Regions from separate parts of the Homo sapiens genome. Here all the other regions are linked to region 2. A link means that fine-mapping ties the variant in region 2 to the expression of a gene that starts in the linked region. Tissue or cell type: whole blood. Region 2 holds a variant in brackets; each other region holds the start of a gene. Each region is shown on its reference strand, or each on the opposite one.

Region 1 (10,175 bases), not on the chromosome of region 2:
ATAAAGCACTGTCAAACTGTCTTTCAAAGCTGCTGCACTATTTTACAGTCCCATCCACAATATATGAGGGTTCCAGTTTCTCCGTGTGGCTCTCCAAGCCCTCCTTTACTTGTCTTCACCGCATTTATCACTGCCTGACATACCCTATATTCTTTTATTACGTCTGGTTCTTCTATTAGACAGTGAGCTCGGAGAAGTGGGGGATCTCTTTGGTTAGCTCTGCAGCCCCAGCACCACACAGTGGCTGGCACAGAGTGCAACGCTCAACCCATGTCTTGAATTTGTGAATATAGTTCTGTAACCTTTTTTCACTAACCTAGTCCCTTGATCTTCATTTTACATCTGATTACCTTTAGTTACCCAAGTACTTTATTTTGTATTTAACTTGCATTCAAAAAACAGGATCTCAGTTCTTCCTTCTTGTAAAGTAAGAAAATCTTATTTATGATATATGCAGTTGACTTATCTTGCCTCAACAGAAGAAAAGTTAAATATTACATTTTTTTCTTTTAGGAAATATCATTTGTGGCAAGCGTCTTTCTTGTAACAGTCTTAAAACATCGTGACAAAGCTAAACTCCTTTCGAACAGTACTCAGAATGATATTGCCCATTCTTTCTGCTAATCCTTTGCTTTGTATCTTTTGTCCATGCCTGTATGTATATAGCAGAGTAGGAAATTGGGAAAATACATAGTTTGGGCCTTTAAAAAGAAAATGCTGTAAGGGTTATTTTACAATCTATTTACTCAACACTGTGCCTTAGGGATCTTTTCTTGACAGTATATATAAATCTACCTTTTAAAAAGCTGCTGCATAGTGTTTTGTGTGATATACATATGACAATTTAGCCATTGCCTTTTTGTTTGTTTGTTTGTTTACCTGCTCTGGCTGGAGTGCTGTGTGGTGCAATTATGCTCACTGGAGCATCAACTTCCTGGGCTCAAGCAGTCCTCTTGCTTCAGCCTCCCAAGTAGCTGGGACTACAGGCTGCACCACCACACCCAGCTAATTTATTTTTTGAGTAGAGGTGAGTTCTCACTATGTTGCCCAGTCTGGTCTCAAACTCCTGAGCTCAAGTGATCCTCCCATTTCAGCCTCCCAAAGTGTTGAGATTACAGGCATGAGCCACGGCCCCTGGCTGTTGCCTCATTTTCTAAATCACAGATTTGTAGAGTGACTAATTTTTGCAAAACAGTGTTTTTAAAGGTTTTTAAAATTTAATATTATGATGTTAGGTATCATATTAGTGTGTCCAAAATAGCCACAAAGAAAGAGATGATACTGTTGAACCAGAAACTTGAAATCCTGATTTATCTGCTTCGAGGAACAAAATCAATTCCTCAAAACCTTATAAGACAAAATATATTTTAATGTCATAGTAGTTAGGAGGTATCAAACTCAGTTATAAATAGGGGGCTTTAATTCCCATAGTGATAGAACTTTTTAGGCACTTCAGGATTATAATACGGTAACAGTTTTCTTCCCTGCCACTCTGGGGTGCTCTCTGAAGCGGCATCTCCGGCAGAGAACTCCATAGTGTGTGATGAGCCTGCTGCTTGCTCAGTATTGGCATTTACCTCTTAATATACTGTCCTATGCCCATCTGGAGTATAAGCCTCCCAGAGGAGACTGGGCAGAGATTAACTTGGCAGTAAAGATTATCTGACAAGTCTAATATTTTATGTCTTTGTAATTCCCCATTTTCAAGTATATATCTCAATTAGTTTATCTTGATATGTGCTCAAAGATATAAACTATTGTCATCCCATGTTTATGCTATTACACATAACTTTTTATTTAAAGTTCTGGTCATAAAATTCTGGTTCAAACATTCTAGAATTCCCAGCTTCTATTTCTGGAGCTGTGACTCTCAGTCAGTCAATGCTTAGGCCATGCCTTTGAGGCACTAGGTATTGAAAGTCACCACTTCTTCATTATCTTAGGATTCTCAGTTCTTTCTTCAAAACTTATACTTTCAGGTTTTCTTAATTAACTGGTCATTCCATACATCTGTGTAAAATAATTTCTAGGAAAACTCCGAATCTCAAAACCTTTGTTTTATACTTACTACTTCATTTCCAGTAGATGGCACCAAACACCCTTTGAAGGTCTTCATTATACTAATCCCTAGTTGGTGTTGCTGGCTAATTGATAATTTCATCCACCACCAAGGAACGAACATGGTCTATTCTTCAGCTGATTCTCTAATTTTTATATAATGTAGTATTTTTGTTTGGAGTCTAAGCTAGACTTGTTGGCATTTAAATTATTTGCTGTTTCTGGCTCAGATTTCAACCTTTTTTCCCCCTTTTTAAGACAAAAATAAGTGTGACTTTCTGGTCAGGGTGATTGTAGAGGAAGGGTCATGATACTGAAATAGGACTTGGTTAAAATAAAGAGTTGAGAGTAAGAGACTAAAGACATATGCCAAATGTTTGTAATAAAATTAAAGAGAAAATATAAATATATACAAAATCCAAAATGTCAGGATAATGAAATCAAAGCATTTTTAGTATTATCACTTTGGGTACTTTAGTAGAATTGCACTCGTTTATGATTTTGAAGTTTGTTTTACAAATAACATCCAATTTAAAAATACTCTTTTAAAACTTAGATCCTTTTATAGTTCATAAACATAGTAATTAGGTGTTCCCATTGCATGTATGAGATGTGCCTCCCAAAGAGCTTGTTACAGCGTTAGTACATTACCTGTCTGATATGGAGAAAAAAAACTGTTATATTTCTACCTTCATTTCCAACTTTGTATTGTGCTTTGAAAACCTTTACCTTCAGTATGTGTATTTCATTAGTATTTTCATAAAGAATCAGTTTTTAGATCCAGTTAACCACTGAAACCAGAATATGCCTATATGTCAGGCATGATTTACTACATGTTTATTCTATTTATTGAGTTGATTTAATTTTAGTGGGTTTGTGGACATTAAAAAATACATGTTTAATATTTCCCACCATAATTACATTTACACCTTTGTCTTTCTTTTTCTTCAGTACTTGAGTTGTCAGTGTTTTGTGACTCAGTCTGGAAATCTGTTTAAACCACCTTGTCTTTATACAACTACCAACAGGAGGATTGGTAATTTGGGCTCTGGGTGAGACATACATAGGTTCAGTTTCCATGTCTGCAGCTGAATGCATGACAGGGAAAATCATTTAGCCTCCCTGGGCCTCAGTTTCTTCACGTGCAAAATGTAATTAACACAACCTACCTCATGGGGTTATATTGAGGATTAGAGATAATGTAGGTAGGATACCTACACATAGTAAGCTATTATATATTGGCAACAATAATAAACTTTTAAAAAAAGAAATATGTTCATGCTTTACTCATTTGTATTTTGGGGACTCAACCTACCAAGAACTTTATTTCTACTTTTAAAATTGGAGATGTCTGTCAGTACATTGGCAGTGTAGCTTGGTTTGCCAGATAGCTTTCATTTCAAAAATTTTAATAGGTTTAGGGACCGATCTTTAACCTTTTTAGTTCTGTATACGTAACATTCTATTAAGCATTTATATTGGTACCACCCCATGCGGAAACACACAATTTGCAGACGTCTTAAAGAGTATTCTTGGCCGGGTGCGGTGGCTCACGCCTGTAATCCCAGCACTTTGGGAGGCTGAGGTGGGTGGATCACCTGAGGTCAAGAGTTCGAGACCAGCCTGGCCAACATGGTGAAACCCCGTCTCTACTAAAAATACAAAAATTAGCCGGGCGTGGTGGTGGGCACCTGTAATCCCAGCTACTCAGAAGGTTGAGGCAGGAGAATCGCTTGAACCCGGGAGAAGGAGGTTGCAGTGAGCCGAGATCGCGCCATTGCACTCCAGCCTGGGCGACAAGAGCAAAACTCCCTTTCAAAACAAACAAACAAAAACAATAATCTTGTGAGTGTTTTCATCTAGAATTAAAAGGGAGGGGAAAACCCCAAAAGAGATTTAAGCAAAGAATCTTAGGGTTTAATGCCATTCTGTAGGTTCAGGAAGTCTCTGAGCTTTAAAAAGCCGCTCGCGTGAAAGTAATTAATTATTCCATCACTTCCCGGGGGTGGAGGGGGGTGCGGAAAAGGCGCATGAGCTCAATGCTGTATACTGCAGCCCGATTCCAGCTCTTTCTTGAGGGCAGAAAAAACGCCGAGCGGCGAGCATTTAACAACGGCCGGCTTTTCTTCTCAAGCCCCGCAGCAGCCACGTGGCGCCTGCCCTAGCTCCCGGCTCACCGGCCACTAGCCTGCACCGCTCTTCGGGAGGATTCGAGGCTGGGCCCTCGCCAGCCCGAGTTCCGCGAAGCCCAGAACCTCCAGGGCCGCGGCCACCAGACCGAGGGCTCCGGCCCCGAACCCAAGCGGGGCAGAGCGCCCAGGCGACACGAGGTGCCAGCCTTCCATTCGATGGACGCCTGGCAGGTCCCCGGAAGTTTTCCCCGGGGACAGGTCTTGGCAACAGGTCCGAGGCAAGGCCGGGTGGAGCAGAGCTCCGCAGCGGCTGGTGAATCAGCGCCGCCCAGCGCCGGACCGGCCCTCCCAGCCAATGCCAGACCCGGTGAGGAGCAGCCAGGCTGCTGACCATCAGCCACTTAGGGCTCGCCTGGCCTGGAGAAAGGTGACATCATCGTAGCTGGGAGGTTTCCGAAGGCTTCACCAATGGGAGACCGGCGAGGTGCTTGCCTTCTGCAGCTCTTGGCCAATACTAACAAAGCAAAAGGGGGCCCGGGTTGTTGGTATAGAACCAATGGGAAACAAGGAAGGAGCACGAGGCGGAGTTGCGAATCCTGTCACCAGTTGGAAAGAGGGGGTGGAGCCCGGGCCTTGTCAAGTGTGACCAACCAGCGAGAGGAGCGGACTTTGCGGGGTGGAGCCCTGAAGCCCTCTCCCAATCGCACAAGTGTAGGGGCGGGGCATTCTTTGGGGGGCCCAATGAGGAACGCGGCCGAAGCTGGCCTGTCAAGAGAAGGGGCTGGGGGCGGGGAGATGGTGAGTCGGGGATAAACACTCCGCGGCGGTGGCGGCTGCTGCTCTGCTCCGGGTTCTGTCACTGTGTCGGCGGTGCCCAGCTCACTGGCCCCCTCCCTCTCTTGTCGAGCGTGGTTGCCAGAGAGGCTCCCTCAGCCCTGCTCCGCGGGGTCCACAGCGGGCTCCACAGCGGGCTCCATAGCGGGCTCCACAGCGGTCCGGCGGCGGCAGCGAGCCCGTGGGCAGTGGGGGTTGGTCCCGTGGCTCCGGCCCCCGGTGCAGAATGGCGGCGGCGGTTCGGATGAACATCCAGATGCTGCTGGAGGCGGCCGACTATCTGGAGCGGCGGGAGAGAGGTGCACGGGGACGGGGAGGGGTCCACTCGAAACGAGGCCGGGGGTCCTGTGGGGCCGGCCTCAGGTCCGGGCGCCCAGCCGCTCCGGGGGTGGTTGGAGGCGGGGAGACCGCGAGCGCTCCCAACCCCTCTGGCTCTCCCCACGCGCGGTCCGAAGGGAAGCCGCCGCTGCCCCAAAGCAATGAATGGGGTGGAGAAGGGGCTGCCGCCCGCCGGGGTCCCGAACGCCGCCCCTTCCCCAGCCCTTCACGAGTGGGTGGCCGGGGCCCCCTCCGATAGCCTCCCTGGTTTACCTCACCCGGGCTGGTCCCGGCCGGCCCCCAGGTGGGCCCGGCGCCCCAGTCTCCTGGGCAGAGGAGCAGCGCCTCCCGGTCCCCGGCTCACGGTGCTTGCCCCGCACCTTCGCCTGAGCTGGTTCCACTTAACCCGCACCAACCTGCTGGATGTAGCCAGTGGGAAACCCAGGCTGCGTGAGCCTAGCCACTACTGTGTCTTTCTCAACAATGAGCAGCTGGAATCCTCCTTACACCTGCTCCGAATTGACGATATTCACACAATTTTTTTTTAAATCATTGTTCTCAGAATTCCACCTTACTCCATTTAATTATTTCCACAATATTCTTTTAAAGATAAATAAAGGAAAAAGGAAATACTGTAGAGAGGAGAGAGCATTAAATATTCTGGGCCCATTCATTAACTGGATCCTCCTGTTTTCTAGAAGCTGAACATGGTTATGCCTCCATGTTACCATACAATAACAAGGACAGAGATGCCTTAAAACGGAGGAACAAATCCAAAAAGAATAACAGCAGTAGCAGGTAATTTGGTAAATACTTCTTTCTGTCTTTTAGATTATATTGTAGGTGACACAAACTGCTGAATGTAAGTTTTCTGTTGTGATTATAACCCTATAAAATTACATTGTGGCCGTCATGATTCAGTAATGTACACATGGACTTAAGCCATTGCAGGAAGCTGTTTCTGTTTGGGTTGAGGGAACTGAAAAGAAAAATAGAAATGTTTTACATTTCTTTATGAACTTTATTCAAAATTTAATTTCACTTTTCTTCCCTTTTGGAACAAAAAAATCTGTGGAAGCTTCAAGTGAGATTAGCAATGGTGACAGTATTTTCCCTTCAGAAGTTGCAGATTCAGGGCAAGTTTTCTATAAGTCAAAATGCTGGACATTATCCATTTCTTTTACTTTTCATAGTAATGATTTTATAAACACATTAAAGTACCTGACTTGGCATAAGTGATAGGATCTCATACTTGACATGTAAATTAAATACAGTGGTTTGTTTGATACTCTAATTTGTCATCTCTATTTGTAATGGCAAAGAGGAATGATTGAGGTTAAAACCTACCTCTTTAGTGATAGAGGAATATATAATACCAAAATATTAATATGCTACAACTTTTCCATGTTAGCCTTATCGATTATCTTATACCGTAGTTCTTAAAAGCTGTGAATCTCACTGGAGATTTGGTTCATGGTCAGTTAAATCACATATTAAAGTCCTATGCATAGTTTCTGGTACATGCAAATAGTCCATCAATGTTGCTGCCCGTTTCCCCCCTTCTTTGCCCTTAAAATATAGTTGGCTAGGAAATTTGTTCTATTAGATCCCTTCAACTATACCTTTCCTGCCAGTAAATTAAAAGCATTGACCTTTTCGTCACTAGTTTAGAATCCTTATCCCTCCCTCACCCTCATGAATAACTCCTTGCAAGTATCTATTTGGATATCCTCTGTGGCTTAATACAGACCAGGAATTTCCCACTTAAACCTAAAAATCACTTGTTCTTGCTGCGTCTTCTGTACTTGGTTTACCTCTTTAGTATCGTTAGTGGAACCACAGGATGTGAGCAGCATTACTTGTGCCATGCCCTTGAATAAAAATGGCACTTGAAGGATCAACCTGGTAATTACCTGGTAGGTTTTGCTTGTCCTCCCACCTTAGCATTACCTGAAGGTGGTAGCCAGTAGTTTTGTGCATGGGTATGAAGGCACTTTAAGAAAGATGTTAATACTGACTTGTAATATGCAATGGTGTAAAACCAATTAAGCTGTGTTGCATTTTGTTACAATATTTTTTTAATTTTGTTTAGAAGAATTTTGAGGCCTTTCAGTTAATTTTTCTGGAAAAGCATCATCCATTTTTGCTTTTATTATTGTCCACTAATGATTTGAGAGGAATTGTCCAAGTTACTTATTGAGGCTTAATACCTTAACACTTTGTTTTTTTCCTTAGTTTCACAGGAAGGTTGTAGGGGATGTTCACTAGTGGGGATAAGAAAATGAGATGTTGAAGTGGCTTGGTCCCAAAAGGTGATTAGGAAAGAAAAATAATAGTAGTTAAGAATCTTAAGCCAAGAAATGGATTCTTTCTAGTATCTTCTCTTTAATAATCAGTACTATGCCAAAAAAAAAAAAATAAAGGCTACAAATCCTTCTGTTAATGGGTTGGTTTGCTTTCCATGGTTAGAGACGGGATTATCACAGTTGTCCATACACCTGACTGATAGTGAGTTAGTGTAATATATTCAGTGGTGTAAGGATTTCTGAGAGACCATGATTAAACCTAGAGGTAGCACCAGCCAAACGTGTGAGGCAAGAGCAGGCAGTTTTCTTTCAGTGTGATCATTTCCTTCATGACTCATTTGGAATAGCTCCTTTTCTGAGGAACAAGCAATCATAATGGAGAAAGCAGCTTGACCCCATGGTTTGAATCGGCTTTATATCCTCAGCCATGTATGGTCAGAATTTTGAACTGAGGTAAAGGATAGGGAGAGATTACTGCTGGTTTACATAACCCTTGGATAACAGTTTATTCTTGTTCTTACAGGTTGAAATGCTGTGCTTTTTGCTTGTAGAGTCTAGGGAAGTACTTTTCCTTGGACAATAAAAGATAAGATTTTGCCACATAGGAAACTTCTTGGGAACTGAAAATGCAGATCTTATTCACGTTTCTCTAGTTGCTTATTAAAACAACAAAAATGAAAATGAAATTGTGAATATCAATTGTTTTTGAAATTATCCATAGAACTGCTGGAATATGGGAAGATGGAAGTTTCTTTCCTACTGATTTTTGAAGTCAATTACTAATTATTTAGAATTGAAATCTAGAACTTCTTAAAAGTGTGTTTTGTTCAATGAGTAAAGCAAGCTTTGGCACTCACGTGAAAGAGGAAGTTCAGGACTTGCCACCCAGTTGTTTTATAAGACAGTGGCTAGAGTGACCTGACATGAGGAGTGTTTTTGAACCCAAGAATTTTTCCTGGTTATCTCAGATACGCCGTAATTTGGCTTAGTTTTTTTTTATTAGAGTGTATTTTTAAATGGTGAAATTTGACCTTTATCAGTGATTCCAGAGTTATCCATTGTTTTCCATAATCACATGGAAAATAGTTTTGACACAAGGTATCAGTGTGTTCTTACAGTGCTTTAATTAAAAACGTAAATGTTTACCCATCAATGGAGGTGGCTGGCAGTCTCGGAACTGATCATTTTTGAAAGGGCTGCTTTTTATTAATAACTCAGTTTCAGTAAACTAGATGCACTTCAGTAATGCTCTAGCCATTAAGTACAAGTCCCCCTTTAAAAAGCACCATGTGTTTAACACTCGAGTAATCAAATAAAATCTGTAGTTTTAAAAATTTTGTTCAAATTTTGGAAGAAGTTGTGCTTCCTATGGAGTTTGTTTAAAAGTTTATTTTGGGGATTCAGAATTTTGCATAAGTATATAACTCTATTTATTAGTTTATATATTTTCAAAGAATCCAGAAATATTTTGGTAAGAATTTCCTGTGTGCTGTTATTTTCTACTCTCTTCTCAACCTATTCACTTTCCTCTCCTCCACCTACAAGGGGTGGTCCTTGTCTACAGTTAAAGAGGGTAATCTCAACCAACTGTTGGCATATACTTTCATCCATTTTATTTTATTTATTTATTTATTTTTAGACAGTCTCGCTCTGTTGCCTAAGCTAGAATGCAGTGGCACCATCTCGACTTACTACAACCTCTACCTCCTGGGTTCAAGTGATTCTCCTGCCTCAGCCTCCCGAGTAGCTGGGATTACAGGCGTATGTGACCATGCCTGGCTAATTTTTGTATTTTTAGTAAAGACGGGGTTTCGCCAGGTTAGCCAGGCTGGTCTCGAACTCCTGACCTCAAGTGATCCACCCACCTCAGCCTCCCAAAGTGCTGGGATCCCACTATGCCCATCTACTTTCATCCATTTAAAAAAATCTGTCAGGCTTTGAACTTACTAGTCCCGGTTAAAGTTAAAATGCCACGTGCTTTAGAGCCAAAGGTTTGCAGTATATGCCAGATTCTTGTTAACTATAGTATCCTGTTGGCCATTGAAGGCAATAAACCTTCAGAACAATGTGACTGGAGAATGCTGAGGGATAACCAAGTGAATCAGTGTAAAGCTTTTATTTCTTTTTAATTGAGATGGGCTCTTGCTGTGTTGCCCACACTGGTCTCCAACTCCTGAGCTCAAGCAATTCTCCTGCCTCAGCCTCCCAAAGTGCTGAGATTACAGGTCTGAGCCACCATGCCTGACCATTTTAAAGTTTTGTTTTGTTTTGTTTTGTTTTGTTTTGTTTTGTTTTGTTTTTGAGATGGAGTCTCCCTCTGTCGCTAGGCTGGAGTGCAGTGGCACGATCTCAGCTCACTGCAACCTCCAACTCCCTCGTTCAAGGGAGTAGCTGGGATTACAGGCACGCGCCACCACGCCCGGCTAATTTTTGTATTTTAGTAGAGACAGGGTTTCACCATGTTGGCCAGGATGGTCTCAATTTCCTGACCTCATGATCCGCCTGCCTCGGCCTCCCAAAGTGTTGG
Region 2 (10,175 bases):
GAGATGCCCCCTCCATGGGCCGGACGCGGAGGGAAGGGGTGCCCAGTTGGGTTCTGGGGCCCTTCCCCTCCTTGGGCTTCCACTATCCCGTTTGACCTCCTTTTTTCTTGGCCCTTCCTCCCCCTTGACCTGGTGCTGACTGACTGCTTCCACCTCCCCTGGGCTGGCGCCGGGCTGCTGTACTCCCGTAGCCTCCCTGGGCCGCTCCCTGACATCCCGTGCCACTCAAGAGTTAGTGCATAGTGTCAACGCTGAGTGGGTTCACAGCACTTCCAGGTGCAGCCTGGAGGCCTCCTTTGGGCTGCCCCCGCCTCAGTGGGGCTGCATTAGCATTGGCGACTCCCCTCGCTCACCTTCCGCATCCCATCAGTTGCTGTATCCCGCGACTCCTGCCTCCTAGAATTGTGTGCCCTCCACACCATCAGGAGGCCTGCAGCAGCTTTTTCCCGGGCTCCCTGCTTCTAACAGGGCCAGCTTCTTCCTGCAGTAGAGAGCTCTGGTGGGAGTGAAGGCTCCATCACCTCCTCTCCCAAACGCTGAAAGGCCAAAGGTCCAGCCTCGGCACTGGCTCTGGCTTCTGTCCCTGTAGCCCATCGTCCCCCAGCACTGATAGCACACAGTGTCTGCCTGTTCGACCCCACCTCCACATCCTTGCCTGCACTTTGCCTTGAGTGCCTCTCCTGCTCTGGTCTGCCTGTCACCTGCCCTCACCTGGGGGAGGCTTCCCCATACCAAAAGGGATGTTTTCTCTCCGTTCCTTTCCACGGGCCTTCTTTCTCAGACCATGAACCCGTCCTGACCCAGGCTCTGACCTCCTTCCTGCCCAGGTACCTGCTGGAGCAGCGAGACGTGGAGGTGAATGTGCGGGACAAGTGGGACAGCACCCCCTTGTGAGTGCTGGAGAGAGGGGTGGGGAGGGTGGGGGTTGGTGCACCCCTTCAGCACTGAGGACTGCCTCCTGTACTTCCTTCCTCCCTTCAGGTACTATGCCTGCTTGTGTGGGCACGAGGAGCTGGTACTCTACCTTCTGGCCAATGGTGAGAGCAGGGAGCCCGGCTCACGGGTGTGCGTGGGTGCATGCATGTGTGCGTGTGGGTGCATGCATGCGTGCGTGCATTCAAAGGCCTTGATACACATTTGCAAAGCACCACGATTCCTCTCTTACCACCCAGTCGAATCAGCAAGTACTATTATTGCTACTTTAAAACCTTTTCTCTGTCCACCTTGCCCATCTCTACTTCTACGACCTGGGCCCAGTCATCAGCATTTCTCCCCGGACACGGTGCCTGCCTCTCTCTTGCCATTGCAGCCAAGTTGATCTTTTCACAATGAATCTGATCGGCTAAAAATCCTCCAGCAAGTTCCCATTGCCTCTAGGATACAGTGAGCCTGCCTGGCCATGCCCAAGGCTCCACAGGGTCTGCCCTCCCACTGGCCTCATTCCTTCGGCTCTCCCTGCTTGCTTGCTGCTTGCTTGCTGCTACACTGGCCTCGCTGGGGCTCCACTGTGCTATGCATGCCCCTGTTCCTGCCCCAGGGCCTTTGCACCTGCAGTTCCTCCTGCATGGACTGCCGTTCTGCAAACGTTCACATGGCCCACTCCCCCTTCATTCAGGTCTCTGCATGCTGCCACCATTACAGAGTGACCTTTCATGACTTCCCTTCATTCAGTGCCATTCTTCTTCCTATTTTGGTTTTTTCTTTTTTTTTTTTTTTTTTTTGGAGACAGAGTCTTGCTCTGTCACCCAGGCTGGAGTGTAGTAGTGTGATCTCGGTTCACTGCAGCCTTAACCTCCCAGGCTCAAGTGATCCTCCTGCCTCAGCCCCTTCAAATCTTCAAATAGCTGAGACTACAGGCGTGCACCACCACGCCCGGCAAGTTTTTGTATTTTTTTTGCAGAGATGGTGTCTCACTATGTTGCCCAGGTTGGTCTCAAACTCCTGAGCCCAAGTGATCCACCTACCTTGGTCTCGCAAAGTGCCTGGATTATAGGTGTGAGCTGCCACGCCCAGGCTTGTTTTTCTTAATAGTCCCTGCCATCGTTAGGTAGTGGGTTGATTGTCCTGCCTCACTAGAGTATAAGTTCAGCAGGACAGGGACCTGTGTCTCGTTCACTGCTGTGCTCCAGTGTGTGGGACAAGCCCAGCCACCAAGTCAGCTCTCCGTTCTGTGTTGTCTGTCTTCCGTGTGAGTGAGTATGTGCCTGTGTGAGTGCACACAGACGTGCCCATTCGCCTAGCCCTTGACTGGGAGGGTGTTGGGGTCAGAGTGGGCCCAGGGTAATTTGGGAAGGCATCGCCAGAGATTCGGAGCCCCATGTGTGGGAAGGTGGGGAGGAGGGACAGGGAGATTAGAATTTCCCCCAGGCCCCTTCCCTGCTAACTGGTGAGCCCTGCCTCCCCCAGGAGCCCGCTGCGAGGCCAACACCTTCGATGGTGAGCGCTGCCTCTATGGGGCACTGAGTGACCCCATCCGCCGGGCTCTACGCGATTACAAGCAGGTCACGGCTTCCTGCAGGAGGCGGGATTACTATGACGACTTCTTGCAGCGGTGAGCCAGGGCACACGAGGGGTGCAGCATGGGGTGCGGTGGCCCTGGTGGGTGTGGCGAGTCTGCTCTGACTGTGGCCTGCACTGGGTTCTGAGTGCTCCGAGGAATGGGGTGGGGCTGTGCCAAGTATCCTCCCTCCTGGCTTGTCCCTCCCCAGGCTTCTAGAGCAGGGCATCCACAGTGACGTGGTCTTTGTAGTACACGGGAAGCCATTCCGGGTGCATCGCTGCGTCCTGGGTGCACGTAGTGCCTACTTTGCCAACATGCTGGACACCAAATGGAAGGGCAAGAGTGTCGTGGTTCTCAGGCACCCACTGGTATGTCCCTTCAGGGTGGCAGAGGGGCATGAACTGTCCAGGAACAGCAGGAGGTTGTGCTGGGTGGCTGCCTCTGACATTACTTTCTGGTTTTCTGCCCACAGATCAACCCCGTGGCCTTTGGGGCCCTGCTGCAGTACCTGTACACAGGTGACCCCCTGGGTCCAGGGTAGGAGGAGAGGGAGTGGGCCGTCCTTCTGGACAGCAGTACACCTAGGTGTGGCTGGGCTGACCTTTCACCTCTAGACACTTCATGGTCCCCCCGGGGTGGTTCCAGCTGCCTCTCGGGTTGGGTTGCAAGAGAGAGGACTAGTGTGCCTGCTCAGGAAGAGCTTGTCCCACCCACATGCTGAGGCCCTCCCATCTGTTCCCTGGGGCCTGTAGAACAGCTTTTGATGGGGAAACCATGGTGGCAAGTGGGCCCAGGAGTCCTAGTCCTGCAGCCAGGTGGCCAGGTGGGAGGGGATCACCCTTTTTCTGTGGGCCTGATGACAGCTGAGGTCCCGCAGGCCCTCATCCTCCCCACTGCCCCCAGGCCGCCTGGACATTGGCGTAGAGCATGTGAGTGACTGTGAGCGCCTGGCCAAGCAATGCCAGCTGTGGGACCTGCTCAGCGACCTGGAGGCCAAGTGCGAGAAGGTGTCTGAGTTTGGTGCGAGCAGGGTTTGGGGCCCGGGGCCATGGGTGCGGCCTGGCAGGGCTGGCCTGGCTCCCTGAAGTTGTTCTTCCCCTGTAGTGGCGTCTAAGCCAGGCACGTGTGTGAAGGTGCTGACCATCGAGCCCCCACCTGCAGACCCCCGCCTCCGGGAGGACATGGCGCTGCTGGCCGATTGTGCCCTGCCCCCCGAGCTCCGAGTAAGTGCGGGGCTGGTGGGCAGGAAGGGCGTTTTGGGATGGCAGGCCGTGACAGGCAGCCCAGATACTTGGGCTCAATTCCTTGTGTGGTCCTGGACCAGTTACTTCCCTTTTCTGAACCTAGTCGTTCACTTCTGTGAACAACTGCTCTGATGGGGTCACCTCTTCTGTACCCCAGGGTGATCTTTGGGAGCTGCCCTTCCCTTGTCCTGACGGCTTCAACAGCTGCCCTGACATCTGCTTCCGAGTGGCTGGCTGCAGCTTCCTCTGCCACAAGGTGCCTGTGCCCTCCTGTTGCCCCTGGCCCCAGCCCGTTGCCCTGAGCCCCCGTCTAGCTCCTCAGGAGACAGACCCTGGCCCTCACACTTCCTGAGCCCGGCCTCCCCCAGGCCTTTTTCTGTGGCCGCAGTGACTACTTCCGAGCCCTGCTGGATGACCACTTCCGAGAGAGCGAGGAGCCAGCGACCTCAGGGGGCCCCCCAGCCGTCACCCTGCATGGCATCTCACCCGACGTCTTCACTCACGTGCTCTACTACATGTACAGCGACCACACTGAGGTGGGGGCTCAGGCAGAGCTGGGGATGGCACACAACCTGTGCTGCCGTGGGCTGAGAGGGAGCGCCAGGGCCCTGGGGGTCTGTGGAAGGGCCCAGCTGGCCCCATGGTTGACGTTTTGAGAAGGCTGGAGGGGAAGGCTGTGGGACTTTGGATTTTTCTTTCAGGTAGAGGAAGCCTTGTTGGGCTCCAGAGAGAGGATGAGTGATGAGCCTGTGTCACAGACACTCCACACTTGTCAGCCACTTGGGATCCTCAGCTTCTCTAGCAGGAGGGTGGAGGGTGGGTGGGGACAGCCTCCTCTCTGTGGTGCTGCAGATCCCTGGGGTTCTGGGTTCCCAGTCTCCTCTTCCCTTGCTGCCTGCCTCTGTCTCCAGCTGCCCCAAGGTGTCCGTAAGCCAAGGCTGCAGGGCAGCAGCAGAGTGCTGAAGGTTTGCTCTGCCAGGGTGTGTGAGAGAGAGAGAGAGTGTGTGTGTGCGTGCGCGTGCGCGCGCACTATAAAGCAATCCCCATATCTGGTGGCTTAAAGAAGAGGGGAGTTTGTTTCTCCTTCACTTCTGACTGAGGTGGGTGCCCCAGGGCAAGTGGCTTGCGGAAGATCAGGTCATCCCTCCATCTTGCCCCTGTATGCCTAAGGGTGAAGGTCAAAAACCTTTTCTCTGAAGGTGAGTGTTTCAGGTTCTGTGGGCCATATGGCCCTGTTGTAGCTACTCAACTCTGTAGCGCAAAGGTAGCCAGAGACAGTACAGAGATGAGTGGGTGAGGCTGCATTCCAATAAAACTTTACTTGCACAAACAGGCTGGATTTGGTCCACAGGCCGTAGCTTACCCATCCTGCCTGGGGCATCGCGTTTGGCCATGGAGATTG[G/C]GTCCTAGGCAAACTCATGCTCTAGGAGGAAGAGGAAGGCAGGGCAAGCAATGCTGTTTTTGTAGAAGCCACCGGAAATTGCACCACTTCTCATGTTCCCCTGGAGAGAACTTCGTGCCTACCTGCCAACAAGGGAGGCTTGGAAAGTCATTCTGTGGCCAGGGCCCTGTTTTGTGGGGGAAGGGGAGGAAGCATGCTGGGAGACAGAGGGCAGTCCCTACTGCTGCTCTATCTCCAGTGGCAGCTCCCTTGTCCATCCCTCCGCGCGGCCTGACAGCCCCTCAGCCTCCATCTTTCCCACCCCCTCTACTGGGCATCTCCTGCAGCTCAGCCCAGCTCTCTGGCCCCTGTAGCAGGGGTTACCTTTGCCCACCCTGGAGAAGCTCCCTCTTCAAGGAGCCTCGCCACCCAAAGGGCACCTTGTCTCAGAGTGTGGCTTGGGCTCTTAACCTGGGTTGATACTGGTTGAGCTGTGTGACACTGGGTGAGCTTTGTGATCTTGGGCCAGTTACTTAACTGCTCTGTGCCTCTAGAACATGGGGATAGCTCTCGTCGTCACTTCCTAAGGCCTTGTGCAGATGCATGGGTTACCCAGGTAAAGGAGGTGGCATGGCACATGGCACATGGCTTGTAATGTGGTCGCAGAGCTCCCCTTGTCTCTGTCTGCAGCTTGCTCCCTGTGCCACCCAGGCTCTGGCCTGAATCTGAGGGCTTCAGTCTTATCCAGCACAGGATGTATCTGTAGGTGGGCTCTGTGTCCCCACAGCCTCTTGAGAGGGAGGGAGCTGGTAGATAGTCTCCCACCCCTGGCAGAGTCCCTGCATAGGTCTTGACTAGCTGCCTCTGTCCCACCATTCTGACAGCCCCCGCAGGTAGGCATGGTTATCTATACCTCATGGACTGGGAACTAGAGGCACAGGGAGGTGCAGTGACTTGCCCAGGGCCCCACAGCTAGAAGTGTCAGACCCAGGTCTGTATAACTCGGAGCTCAGACCCTGGCTCCTGCGAGGGCCCTGCCTCCCGCCTGCCCTGCCAGCCTGCTCAGGGCATGGGAGAACCCCCCAGTCTTCTGCCCCCTAGCGGTCCTGCAGATCCCTGTGGGAATCTGGGCCAGCCCCCCGACCCCCAACCCCATACATGCGCAGGGAGCTCCTACTCCCACTGGAAGCCTTCCCGCCAGTGCCCCCCAACCACCACAGGCCCTAGCCTTGGCTGTTGTGCCCTGGGAGCCCTTGGTGACCTCGGGGGGCACCTTCATCCCTGTCTTCACTGCAGCTGTCCCCCGAGGCAGCCTATGATGTGCTGAGCGTCGCCGACATGTACCTGCTGCCAGGCCTGAAGAGGCTGTGCGGCCGCAGCCTGGCTCAGATGCTAGACGAGGACACTGTGGTGGGTGTGTGGCGCGTGGCCAAGCTCTTCCGCCTGGCGCGGCTTGAGGACCAGTGCACTGAGTACATGGCCAAGGTCATTGAGAAGGTGGGCCAGTGGTCTGCAGTGGGTGGGAAGGAGGGGTGAGAGGGCAGGCACCCCTCCACTGAGCTGGCCCTTCCCGCTCATAGCTGGTGGAGCGGGAGGACTTCGTGGAGGCGGTGAAGGAGGAGGCAGCGGCTGTGGCAGCCCGGCAGGAGACGGACTCTATCCCGCTGGTGGACGACATCCGCTTCCACGTGGCCAGCACGGTGCAGACCTACAGCGCCATAGAGGAGGCGCAGCAGCGTCTGCGGGCACTCGAGGACCTGCTCGTGTCCATCGGTCTGGACTGTTGAGCCCCTGGCTGGGCAGCCCCAGGGGCCAGGAGCTCTCTTGGAGACAAGCATGTGTATGCGTTTGTGTGCAGCTCTTCTTCCTGCTCCCTGCACATTGAGGGCTTCATGGGGGGTGCGAGGGGCTCAGTGGGGCTTCTCTTCCCTCCATGAGCCTGGAGACCCCAGGGGAGGATCCATTTGGGATGAGCCCCCTCCCCCCAATGCACAAGCCAGCCCCCAAGACCCTGGGGGTGGACACCACTCAGGGAAACCTGGGGTGGGGGTGGGCTTTGGTCTTAGCACTTTCCTTCTCCAGATCCCCCCTACCCACCCCAGTCCCAAATCCAGTCCTCTGGCCCTTGCCTAGCCCTGAATTGCTTCTCTAAGCTGGTGTTCCCATGCACAGGGCCATTCAGGAAGGGCTGGGGGAGTGTGTGTGGCAATAAAGCTTGAAGGCACCGTGGGAGCATGAGCCTGTGTCCTGGGGTACAGCTTGGGAAGGGTGGGGCCTTCTGGAGCCAGTGGAGCTGGTGTGACCAAGGAAAGAAGCTCTAGAGTTGGGGGCTCCCAGCAGAGGCTGGCCCAGAGCCCAAGGGCCAGGGTACCTGGCTGAGCAGACCTAGAGATCTGCCACTGACCCCAGTGTGGCCTGGGCCCATCCTGGCTCCCTGCCTCCCTGTCTCCATGGATGCTGGTTGTGGTGGGCCTCATTCTAGGAGAGGGCCAGGACCAAAATGACCATTTTCTGTCAGCCCAGTGCCAGTCTTTTCCCCAGGGAGGACCTTGTGGCCCTTCCTGCAGGGGCTGCTACCTTATTATGGGAAGGTAAGCTGCAGGGGCCAAGGGAGACCTTTCTCCTTGGCCCTCTGAAGGTTCACTGAAAAATTAACTTGCAAAAGGCAGAGTAACAGGAGAAAAGACACGCAAATTTATTTAGCATGTAGACATGGGCGTCTTCAGAATGAAGACCCAAAGATGGGAAGCTGTCCATTGTTAGGCTTAGGCTCAGCAAAGTGTGGCCAGCCGAGTAGAAATGGGATTGGCAAAAAGTGCAGGATCCTATGCTGACTGAACAGGGAAATGCAGCCAGGCCTGTCTAGATTCTTCTTGGTCTCTCTGAGCAGCCTGCCTGCCTACCTTCTGGGTGTGGGGCAGGACCCTCTGGAATGGGGGTCTTATGACCTATAGTCAAACAAGGTGGATCAGATTATTACTTTATGGCCAGTTTTTACACAGATACGGCAGAGGGAAAGTGAGAGTCCTGTTTTTAGGTTTTATGGCTGGCTTTGGGGAAAGGGGGCTCTGGTTTCTAGGGCCCGCCTAGGGGAAGAGGGATTCTAGTTTCTGTGGCTAGCCTCGGGATGATGAGACTGAGAGAAGGGGGCAAAAGTTCAGAGAGAAGCTCCTGCTTCTGAGGTTGTTGCTTGGGTCTTCATTTTGGGGTATTTGAGCCCCAAGGGGGTTTCTCACGATGAGCTGCAGGCCTGTGGACCGCCCCCCCACCAGGCCTCTGCCTTCTAACCTGGTTAAACTCAGTGTCGTGTCATGGCCCTGGGGGAGGAAAGGAAGGCTGGTTCTTTCACAGGGCTTCTAATATCGGGTGTCTCCACCCTCCCTGCAGTTATTTCACAGCTGTTCATGCTTTTTTTTTTTTTTTTTCTTTTCAGACGGATTCTCGCTCTGTCGCCCAGGCTGGAGTGCAGTGGTGCGATCTTGCTTGGCTCACTGCAACCTCCACCTCCCGAGTTCAAGCAATTCTGCTCAGCCTCCTGAGTAGCTGGGATTACAGGTGCACACCACCATGCCCGGCTAATTTTTGTATTTTTAGTGGACACAGGGTTTCGCCCTGTTGGCCAGGCTGAGCTTGAACTCCTAACCTCAGGTGATCCGCCTGCCTTGGCCCCACAAAGTGTTGGGATTACAGGTGTGAGCCACCATGCCCGGCCTCTTCATGCCTTTTTACTATGGTATTTTTGGATTTTTTCCCTTTTTCCTCCCCAGTGCATTTTCAGCCATGTTGCACTGGCATGTTGGTCGTCACATGGGGGAAGTTGTAGGTCTGAAGTGACCACTAGTGAGGGATCAGCTGGGACAAGTCATGGTGCAGCCTGCAGGAGGTGATGAGTGTGTTGGGGAGGTGTCCTGGGTAGGGCCTGTGGGTGGAGATTGTAGTTTGTGCAAGGGCCTGGGATCCTGAAAACAGCCTGAGATGGGATGGGCTGGCGGGGGTCTGCGCATTGCCAGAGCTGAGCTGCGGCCAGAGGACCAACCCCACCGTGGGTCTGCCTTTCACTGCTGGCCACCGCTCTGCCTGTTTGCCCGCCCACAAACTGGGGGTGATTATGGCAACTCCCTCTTACCTAGTGTTTGACCTATCCTGAGCCTGGTGTGTTAAACAAAGGCTGAGTCCACCTGGTGGGTGGGAGGTGGGAGCACGGGAGTGACAGGGGCTCACTCCGGTTGCCCTGGGGCACACAGGAAGGGAAGAGTGAGGCCAGGCTAGTGGCCTAACACCAGCAGGTCTCACCTCAGAGCACACACAAATCCTGGTGTGCCAAGAGAGATTTAAATATTTAAATAAAAAATTTTAATTCCTATGCATTTCTTTTCATATGCATTAGGGGAGAAAATGAGCTACTACATGAAACCTTTTTTTACAGATGTTATTATTTGAAATCATAAAGTTTCCAATCTTGAACAAATTTTAAATAAAACCCTAGTAAGAGGGCAGTTTAAGGAAAAATTATCTGGAGTTGGTATTTTAGTGGTTCACTGATACAGCAGATACATACAGCCAGGTGTACCAGCTATGGCACCTGTTCAGGGAGAGCTGCAGTCTGAGAACTGCCACCCCTCAGGAACTAGGCTGTGTGGTTGTTGGGGCAGCATTCCCCAGCCACACCACACCATTTCTCACTTTATTTTATTTTATTATTTTATTTTATTTTATTTTATTTTTTTGAGACGGAGTCTAGCCCTTTTACCCAGGCTGGAATACAGTGGTGTGATCTCGGCTCACTGCAACCTTTATCTCCCAGGTTCAAATGATTCTCGTGCCTCAGCCTCCAGAGTAGCTGGGGCTACAGGCGCCCACCACCATGCCCAGCTAATTTTCATATTTTTAGTAGAGACATTGTTTCACCATGCTGGCCAGGGTGGTCTCGAACTCCTGACCTCAAGTGATCCGCCCGCCTCAGCCTCCCAAAGTGCTGGGATTACAGGCATGAGCCACTGCACCCGGCCCCATTCCTCACTTTAGCCTCAGGCAGAGAAGACAGCGCGAT
Region 3 (10,175 bases), not on the chromosome of region 2:
GGGCTGACACAGCCATGGCTCTGAAGTTGAGCAAAACTTACTTAAACCCAGTAAGTGGTTCACTTTTACCTCTCTTCTTCCACTAACATTTAAAGCAATGTTTCATTCTTTCTCAGTTTTTAGGACACTTATATTTGGCCATTACTATACAATCATAGATATGTGTACTTGGGTATAAAAAGTAGAATGTTTAATCTATTCATGTCTATCAGTCACAACAGACTAGAAAATGTGAATGCCACTTGACTAAAATTATTCTAAACTTTAAAGGCCGGGCGCGGTGGCTCACGCCTGTAATCCCAGCACTTTGGGAGGCCGAGGCAGGCAGATCACGAGGTCAGGAGATCGAGACCGTCCTGGCTAACAAGGTGAAACCCGTCTCTACTAAAAATACAAAAAATTAGCCGGGCGTGGTGGTGGGCGCCTGTAGTCCCAGCTACTCGGGAGGCTGAGGCAGGAGAATCGCTTGAACCCAGGAGGCGGAGGTTTCAGTAAGCCGAGATCACGCAACTGTACTCCAGCCTGGGTGAGCCAGGAGGCAGAGGTTTCAGTGAGCCGAGATCGCGCCACTGCACTCCAGCCTGGGCGACAGAGTGAAACTCTGTCTCAAAAAACAAACAAACAAACAAACAAAAGACTAAGAACCTTTTAAAGTTTTTGAGGGTGGAGATCATGTTTTGTGACCCATGCAGAGGCCTGTAATTGTTAACAACCAACTTCTACTCAGTCAAGTGTACAGAGGGGCTGACTACTGATGCTGTTGCTGCTGCTGCTGCTGCTGATGGTGATGATAATGATGATGATGATGATATGATGACACAGAATAATTTGTTTATAAAAGCACTTATCATATAGATGCATTTATTTGGGGAAGTATTATGATTATTTGAGCTCAACTTGAGGGCTTAGTTACAAATAAGCACCATGGTTTGCTACCTGTTTATTCCAGGAAGTTGCCTTGAAATTCAACAGTTAAGACAAAATTGATCCAATTGTAGAAAATTAAATAAAATACGTGAATGAATGAACTTGCCTTCAAATATGAAGAGGACACCAGACACTACCTCACAGGACTGTATGACAACTAAATGCTTTCATAGGGTTAAAGCACTTAGAAAAACACCTGATTCAATGTAAGTATTAACGTTATTATTAGGATGATTAATTGAAGCGCCTTCCACTCCCCCCCATCCCCCACCGATATCTTACAAGATGGAGCAGTTATGCAATTTCTGGGCAGACTGATGTAAGCATTGAAACTGACAAACCAAAACAACAGGAACAGTCAATAGTATAAGGCAGGAAGTTGGATCAGAAGGGAACTGAGGAAAGCAACAAGGAGATGCCATCTGGGGAACACCACGGCCACAGCAGCTATAGGGAGATATCCCTAGGAAACCAACATCTAATCAGGAGGTGACTTCCGAGAGCCTCAAAATGAAGACCCTGTAGAACATTAACACTTTTTTAAGGAGTGCGCTTCCATCTGGCAAAATAGGAACACTTGAAACTCTTCAAATCTGTGGACACTGATTAGTTTTATATTTTGATGTGTCCTAATTCTAATGTTTATTTCTGCAGTGTTCAGTATACAGATGAAATAGTATCATTTCATTTGATATCTGTAAGTTGGGAAACTAGCAGATAAAAAAACACTAGGAAGAAAATTAGATTAACTGAAATAATGTCACTCTACTATAAAATCTACTATTAGTAATAAAGTCCAAGCCTTTATAATCTTATTTTATAAGTGTTTGACTCTTCATAAGTATAACCTTATAAGCAGATTTCTTAATTTTATTTTACCTAAGCTGATTTTAAAAGTTGCTTGCCATCTCTCCTGTATACACAGAAGGGCCTGTACTCTTTAGGTAACAAGGAGAAGTTGACTTGAGAATTTTCTGAGAATAATCCAAAGTGACTAAGTAAAAGTTAACAACTGCCCTTGTGTTCTTTGTCATCAAAGAGGCCCATTATTGGGTATATAGTTTTGGCAAGGGTAGCTAAGTTTTGGCCCAACCAATGTATTTATACTAAAAAAATGAGATTGTAATTTTCCCTGTTTGTTAGTCATTGTACAATTTTTTAAATTTCTTGAGGTCAATGTCTATATGATACTTTGAAGCTAAAATGAGACTAGGGCTTCGGTAAAGCTGAAACATGGTAGAATGCAAAATATTATATTATTGTTGCATCTTCATTCATAGCAATAAATGGAAACTCAGTAAATATTAAGTTAATAAGTACAATCAAAGTCTTTCATGCGTATGTAAGAAGCTGAGAAAAAAAATACTTGTGACAAATTTTCAATTCAATAAATGCCTTTAGTATCTACATGTGCCAGGAAAGATGGAGAAGGAGCTCAGGTCTGTCAGCAAATAAGTACTTGAAACTAAGACAATGTGATTAATGTTATACTTACTCCAAGATCAAAGCATTGAGCAAATGCACACCAAAGAAACATTTAGTGGGGGCAGGGAGAAGATGGGAAGGCCTCCAAAAGGGTATGTTTCTTGAAGTCCGCCTTGAAAAATGATCAGAAGTTTTAAAAATAAAGAAGAATGCAATTAAAGAAACAGTTGCAGTGAAAAAAGGTGAAAGAGAATGGAACTTTCTGGTGGCTTGTGGTCTGGTGCACCAAAATGTGGGTTAGCAGTGGCGGGGGAGGGGATGGGGTAGTGGGAGGTTGAACAGAAGGAAGTGACAAGAAATAAGATTGGGGAAGTGGGTCGAGGCAAGTTTGTAAAGGCACACAATTCTTTAGTAAAATTATGCATTAATTTAAAAATAGTTCTTCAGCCCATTATTATATAAAACCTGCAATGGTATCTCTTATTTATAAAAATAAAAATGTTTGTAAATTTATTACAAAGTTTTTCTTCTCTCTCTCTCTCTCTTCTTTCTCTTGCTCTCTCTCTTTTATTCTCTCTTAAAACTGTGAGTGCCAAGATCTTGTTAGCTAGCTTCAGTAATAAAAGTCTATAATCACCTACCTCTGAGAAAAATATGCTGGCCTGGAAGGGAGGATCTGTAACACACACAGTCAGTAGGAGCCTGAAATCCTGGCCATCTACTGCCCCCCACCCCAACTGCCCAGTGACCTATGGCCGGTTCCTTCAATTATCTAGCCCATTCCTTATCTCTAAAGGTAGCTGAGAGGATTAAACGAGGTAATGCATAAAGAGTAGCTGCTTACACTACGTGCTCATAATTATTGAGTGCTATTATTAATTTCCTGTCCTCTCCAAGTTAAATGGTACTTTAACAACAAGTAAATGAGACTTTACTTGTTGGTCTTCCCTTCCCCAAAGGGTTCAGAGATAGAATTATAAATGAAGTTAAAGCACTGAAATTGTTTCCCAAATTACCAATTGTTTCAAGGCATAATTTACAAAAGAGACAAAAATTTAAATGCTACAAAGAAAAGGGTCTCTGGGATTGCTAAGGAAATGTCCTCCTAGGCACAACTCCATCCCACCACAGCAGTGCTTGTTCAAAGGGCAAGACCTAGAAGATTTTTCCCCTGATGTTCCTGGGGGTGAGCTAGAATGAAGAGGAATATCTTTGTAACATATGGGGTTGATGCTTTAGCAATGTAAACTTAACTTTAAACAGGGGACCTTTATATTTTGAATTAACTTTCGCATAGTTCTTTTTTATTCCTTCGTAAATATAAGAAAAATACTGACATTCCTTCACATTCGAATTTATTTTATTCTCATTAATAGTTTTACTTAAAATAAGACACAACATATTTTTAGTCTGTTCTTTTACGGGGTTCAAGTCCCTCTTATCTCAGTTTCACATTTTTGCTTGTTTGAAACTATTCAGGTGAGATGTGCAAAGTAACATTGGTGGTCACATTTTGCAGTTTCCAGAAATTCACATTTATAGGTAAATGATTAATTCTATTCAAATTTGTCTACACAGACATTCTTTAAACAATTATACTTAATAGAAACCAAACTTATGACAAATGTATGTAAATTCAAAATCAAGATGTGTGTGGATAAGCCACCTTTATTTGCTTACTGATAGTTCTGACAGAGTAATTTTAGAAAACAAGTTGCTGTGTAAAAGAAAAGTTCGGTTTTGATAAACATCCTGATTAATGTTCGCATTTCCAGTCTGAATGGCTTTTATAGTTATCATTTGTCAATGGTTCTTAGTGTTATGTGATAGTGGTAATTAAGTAAAAGCTTATACTACAAAATCCAAAGTGTCTATGTTTGGGCAGTTTCTGAAATAAATATCCCATATCAACTGTGTAAAAATTTCTATTGTAGATAAAAGCCTTTCTCCCAGAATTTGAGTGAATATTCATTGATATGGTCATAAGCATAACAAATAATTCAGACAATCCTACAAAAACACTACAATTAAGCATTATACAAATTGCTTTTATTTTTAGAGAACAAATGGAAAAGAGAAAACCTCTAATTCCATGTGGTTATAAAGCACACCCATTAAAAACCCTTGGCGCCAAAAATCACTCAAATAACCAGTATCACATTCAGTAACATATGACTCTAGATAATTTATCCACTAAAGTACTGTAAAGAAGTTTTTTAGAAAAACAGAACCGCAGGAACTAAAATTAAACTACCCCCATTGGGCCAATAAGCCATACAATCTAAATTATCAATACGCGCTTTTCCTGAAAACATTTTAAAGAAGATAAAATCACAGTAAATAGCCTCCGTGAAATAGAGCAATAGAAATAAACCAGAACATGGTTTGGTTTTAAAAGGAAAAAGAAACCTTAATTTTGGGCAGGGGTGATAACTGCAGATAAGTTGAGAAGAACCCAGCCCAGAGAGCCGAGGTGCTCCATCTTGGATGGCCACGCGAGGTGGCGGCAGATGTCCTGGCCAGTTAGACAGTGGCAGGAATCACAGAGGTCTCAGGTGACATGCTCAGATCTCTGGTCCCCTGAAGGCAAAACCCACAATCCACAGAAACAGTGCCGAAGTGCATCACAAGCGCTTAAAACCAACAAAAACACATGAAGAACATTTACCTTGCAGGAAAAAAGCTGTCCTTGGTAGTACTGGTGTATGACCAGGAACCCCTTCTTTCTGATCTGCAGAACAGCTTTGTCAAGCCTGGGTGTGTGGTCACAAGGCAGGAAGTGACTAGAATGACAAATCATCAGCCAGGAAAGAAAAAGATTTTGTCTTTATAAGGACATTTTAACTTTTTTTTCATGTCCCCGCCCCACCAAAAATCACCTGACAGAACAGGTCACAGTGAAATTCAGACACCTCCTACCACTTCCTCTTTTTTTTTTTTTTTTTTGAGACAAGGTCCCGCTCTTTTGCCCACCTCTTTATAAGCATTTTTCTCTCTCCCTTTCTCCTCCAGCTGTCTTTGAGTAGTCCCTGGGCTACTTAAACCTTTCTGATTCTAGATAGCAAGGCAAGATCAGCCTGATAACTTGACTTCTTTGACTCTAGTTGCAAAAGCAAAGCCCAGATGCCTACCTACTTACAGCAAAGATCAACAAATTTTTCATTTTTAGTGAAAGAGCCAGGGAAAAAGGTGGCAGTACACCTGAAACAAATGAAAAGGGACTTCCTTGGGAAAGCCCCACCCCACCTGAAATCAAACCTCTCTGGAGTCCTCTAACAGTGATCTTATTGGTGCAAACAAAACAGAACGATCTCTTTAAGTGAAGGACATGAAAAGGAAGGTTACTAGATTATTTACTCATTCTTTTATTTATAGAACATCTATGTGCTAGGGATCTCTTTAACCCAATTAAGTATCTCAATTATTTAAGCGTTTCCTATAAAGAGCAGCAGTAGATTGCACAGGCAGCTGTTATATTTAAATGGGTAGCTTAATTCCTTCTTACAGGCAGGATTTTTTTTTGAATGCACATTTTATAAAATTAGCAGGTGGTGGCAGGGGAAGCTCTGTTCTGTACCCAAACCCCAGATGCTTGAGGGCAAATTCCTATCTTCAAATGGAGCATCCTCAAGTGCTCACAACAGTTGTGAAGACTGTGGCACCCTGAGTTATGTTGACTAAATATTAGACATGTCTCCACATTGCCCGGAGACTGTGTGTGACTCCAGTAGTCAATCTGCCGTTTAGGAATGAGGGTATGTGGCTGTACTCCCAGGTCAGATGCTGCGCTGAAGATATCTGCTCCAGAGTTGACATGCGTCCGTGTCCGCTGGGCCACGGGCCTCTCAGGTGGTCACGGTATTCTGACTGGTTGGAGGGCTGCCCTTATACTTCTTTTGCTTTTTTGATTTCTCCTCTAGAAAGTTCCTGTTTCTGACCTTAAATGTTAAACCAAACTGTTCTGGTTTATCTACTTCATTAGCCAGTGGTGTGGTGACTTCATCAGAAGCCCACAGGGGCTATCTTGAGGAACTGGGTGGGCGGAAGAACAGGACGAGACGGTGGGGATTCTAGAAACGGTTCACCTCACAGAGAGCTATCAGCCCTCTTGTGATTTCCCAGGGAAGACTGAGGGGGTGATGGGACTCTGTTTTCTCCATCGCATAATCACTCCCAATTAATAAGTTGCAGAGAGCTTTCAAGAAGCACCTACATTCTTTCAGGACACCAGAGGAACATCCATGCATCACTGTTACAGCACTGCTCACGCTACAAAGCAGCAAAATGCTGTCTTCATTCGGGGCCCTGCAGCAGGACTCTGTAGATAATGTCCTGCTGGTGTTACAGATACAAGGGGTTGTAACTGTGGACCTCCCTGATCTGGTTCCACATCCTGGTGGCTTCAGGATGGCATAAAGGCCCAACAGTAACACTTCATGAAGGGGAACAGATATTTATTCCTTTACCTTGGAGAAGGAAAGCACAGTGTTCTGTATCTAGTGGTGCCTGGTCATCTGAGGCCGGAGGAATCTATGAAGAAGAGCAAAATATATTTGTGCATTGGTTCAGCAAGTGTTTGCATGCCTGTCTGAATTGGTGATTCAGAAATAAATAAGACACAATCGCTGTTCTCAAGGAGTATAGTCTAGTGGGGAAAAAACATGTAAGTAAATAAATGCCATCTATAATAGAGGGGTGAAAAAGGCAGTGTGATATCAAAGCAGTTGCAGATTTGAGCAGAGGTGATGTTTGTTAAGTGAAGAAAAAGATTTAGGATTCCAGGCAACGTCGAGGTTGTAGAAGATGAAAGGCATTGACCTGGGTACTGCTTACAGCCACCCAGTTAATAGAGTCGTCTTCTACCCTAGCATCCACGGCAGGCACCCACACCCCCTCAGCCACATCCTGGCCGGCACCATTGCAAGCCCTGCCCTACTCCCTCAATCTTAATCTCTTTATCTGCCTCTCATTGGTGTAAGTCTACCCAGTTTCAGGCAATTGTTTAGGTCCTAGACCAAGACTTTTTCAGAGAAGTGTATTTTTTTGCTGTTGGTGTTTTAAATTGCTTGTGCAGCATAGTACTAGTAAACAGAAGACTGACTTTTGGTTTTCTTACGTTTTTATGTTCTGTACAGACAGTGCGCCCCCTTATGGCCTGAAGCCGGAGTGGACCTTTCTCAGCCCACCCTCTATGAGCCTCCACTGCCACCTGTTCCTGGCCTGGGTTTTGCCTTCCTCTAAGCCCTACCACCCTCTCAGACTTCATCCCACCCTCTCCTGCCCTGAAGCCTCTGGCCTCAGTCCCAGATATCAGATCACCTGCTACTCTCAGGCCTCTAAATATTGCTGAGGAAAGTCACAGAAACACAAACTTGGAATGCTAAAAAGTCAAGATGCTTGACTTCAAATTACTTTCAGAAATACTTCTATTCAATTTTACTAAGTCTTGAGAACAGGCATTCTCAACCTGGAGTCCATAGACCCCTAAAACTAAATGCACAATTTTGTGTGTATGTACTTTTTTTCTGGGAGAAGGGTCCATTGTATTAGTAAAGAGATCACAGACCCCAAAAAGTTGGGTATTTATTCTAAACTCTCTCCTCTTGCCTCAACCTTCCACTTCACCCTCCTATGCTTTGTCCTGGCCCAAGATTCTTCTGTTGCCCCTTCTTGACTGAGATGATCCAAGTCGTCTGGTATGAGCTTCCTCTCTACTTCCACAATATCCACCTCTTCCTCCTCTCTTTCAGTCTTAATGGAAGCGGCATTCTTCTTTCTTCCCAAGGTCAGTGTTTCAACACTATCTCACTCTTAATATTCTACTTCCTTAGATATCTTGCTCCATCAATTGTCTCGTGTTTCTCTAGCATCTTAATGCTAGCATCTTCAGCTCTCCCCACTTCCTCTCCATGCACTCATGGGATTTGTATGAAGAGAAAAACACCTTTGCTTCACTCTGCAGCCCACCCTCATCCCAACATATCATGGGCAGGGAATGAAGATGAATTAAGATGGGTACAGTCCTTGCCATTGTAGAATGTCCACTGTAGTTGAAGACACAGACAAGGAAAAAAGGCAAGTGAAGAGTTATCTACTTGGAAGCACAACAGACGAAAAGCAGCGTCCCTAGGAGCACACAGCACTAACCCAGACATGGGACCTGGGAGGCAGAGAGAGGGAGCATCAAAGTGGTGAAGAGTAAAGATGCTGGGCCAGCTGGCTGGGGTCAAGTTCCAGCTCTACTGTTGTACTAGCTGTGTGATCTTGGGCAAATTAGTTACTTGCACTGGCCTCAGTTTCCTAGTCTATAAAATGGGGGTAAGAACAGTGTCTATTTTAGACAGTTGTTGCAAGGGGTAAGTGAATTGATATATGTAAAGAACTTAGAAGAGTGCCTGGCACGTAGTATATCCTATGTACGTGTTAACTAATCGCTTAATATTTACGTCAGGCTCTGGACTAGACCCCTAACATCCATTATTTCATTTATTCCTCACAACAACTCTATGAATTAGGTATGATTGTTAATTTTTTTCTTTAATTTTTAAAATAATGGCTTCATTGCAATATGATTTACATACCATAAAATTCACCTTTAAAAAGTATACAATTCAGTGGTTTGTTGTATTTTAACAGAGTTGTGCAACAATTACACTATATAATTCCAGAACATTTTCATCATCCCCAAAAGAAACTCTGTACCTGTTAGAGATTCCTCCCCATTCACCCCCATCTCCCAAATTCCCAGCCACAGCCAACCACTAGTTTATTTTCTCTCTCTATAAATTTGCCTATTCGGGACATTTCATATAAAGGGAATTACACAATACATGCTCTTTTGTGACGAGCTTCTTTCACTTAGCATGTTTTCAAGGTCCATCCATGTTGTAACATGTCACTACTTCATTTTATTATTTATTCATTTATTTTGAGATAGGGGCTCACTCTGTCGCCCAGGCTGAAGTGCAGTGGTGTGATTATAGCTTGCTGAGGCCTTGAACTCCTAGGCTCAAGCCATCCTCCCGCCTCAGCTTCCTGAGTAGCTGGGTCTACAGGCACGCACCATCACACCTGGATATTTAAATTTTTTTTTTTTCTATAGAGACAGGGTCTTGTCATGTTGGCCAGGCCGGTCTCGAATTCCTGGGCTCAGGTGATCCTCTTGCCTCGGCCTCCCAAAGTGCTGGGATTACAGACATGAGCCACTGCACCTGACCTTCACTCCTTTTTATGGAAGAATGCTATTCCACTGTATGAATATATCACATTTTATTTACTCATCAGCTGATGGATATTTGGATGCTGCCTACTATTTGATATTATAAAAATGCTGCAATTAACATTTGTGTACATTTTGTGCGTGTGGACATATGTTTTCTTTAATTTATTAATCAAAGTAATATATGTATTTGGTTTTAGAAGTCAAATATTACCTCAAGGCTTCTCATGAAACACCAGTCTCCCGACACACTCCTTCACCTCTGATTCCCATTCCCTAGAACCAAGTATTTTGAACAGTTTTAGCTAATTCTTCTGTTATTTTATTACATATTTCTAGATGTTATGCTTATGGTGTATCTTGATTGGGTTCAGATACCTACATATATTTATGTATATGTATATATATGTTCATATATTTTTTCCTTCCTACTTGAGAGATAAATATTTGACCCTCTCACATCCCCCAGTCCAACATATACATGTTAACCTTCCCATCATCCTCCAGAACAGTTTATAATACCCTTTTATTTAAATCAATACTCAGCTTTTACAGTAACTCAAAATATTCATAACTGAGTTAGGAATATTTTGCATTATGTTTT

What was found. PIP is the estimated chance that this variant, and not a neighbour inherited with it, causes the effect.
Region 1: it holds the start of MXD1, and the variant in region 2 is the best candidate, but not a certain one, in a credible set for the expression of MXD1 in whole blood (TOPMed, PIP 0.85).
Region 3: LCP1 starts here. The variant in region 2 is the best candidate, but not a certain one, in a credible set for the expression of LCP1 in whole blood (TOPMed, PIP 0.65).

The regions. Positions count from the first base shown.
Region 1 is chr2:69,910,081-69,920,255 of GRCh38, forward strand. MXD1 (MAX dimerization protein 1) reads left to right here and starts at 5,029. Exons shown (of 6, transcript NM_002357.4): 1 at 5,029-5,323; 2 at 6,041-6,140. The coding sequence starts at 5,251. LOC124906176 (small nucleolar RNA U13) reads left to right here and starts at 2,615; the gene lies at 2,615-2,719. RefSeq lists enhancers at 4,193-4,242, 4,255-4,860, 4,343-4,452, 4,553-4,752 and a silencer at 5,403-5,632.
Region 2 is chr3:127,673,564-127,683,738 of GRCh38, forward strand. It overlaps ABTB1 (ankyrin repeat and BTB domain containing 1), which reads left to right. Exons shown (of 12, transcript NM_172027.3): 2 at 828-890; 3 at 982-1,037; 4 at 2,407-2,551; 5 at 2,709-2,868; 6 at 2,973-3,018; 7 at 3,404-3,520; 8 at 3,605-3,723; 9 at 3,902-4,000; 10 at 4,113-4,280; 11 at 6,422-6,622; 12 at 6,706-7,363. The coding sequence ends at 6,912. Among named protein-coding and RNA genes, the nearest start is that of ABTB1, 5.7 kb to the left of the region's middle. RefSeq lists an enhancer at 9,198-9,733. The variant G/C (reference allele first, on the strand shown) is at 5,147.
Region 3 is chr13:46,177,091-46,187,265 of GRCh38, forward strand. It overlaps LCP1 (lymphocyte cytosolic protein 1), which reads right to left and starts at 5,087. Exons shown (of 16, transcript NM_002298.5): 1 at 5,021-5,087. RefSeq lists an enhancer at 4,750-5,179.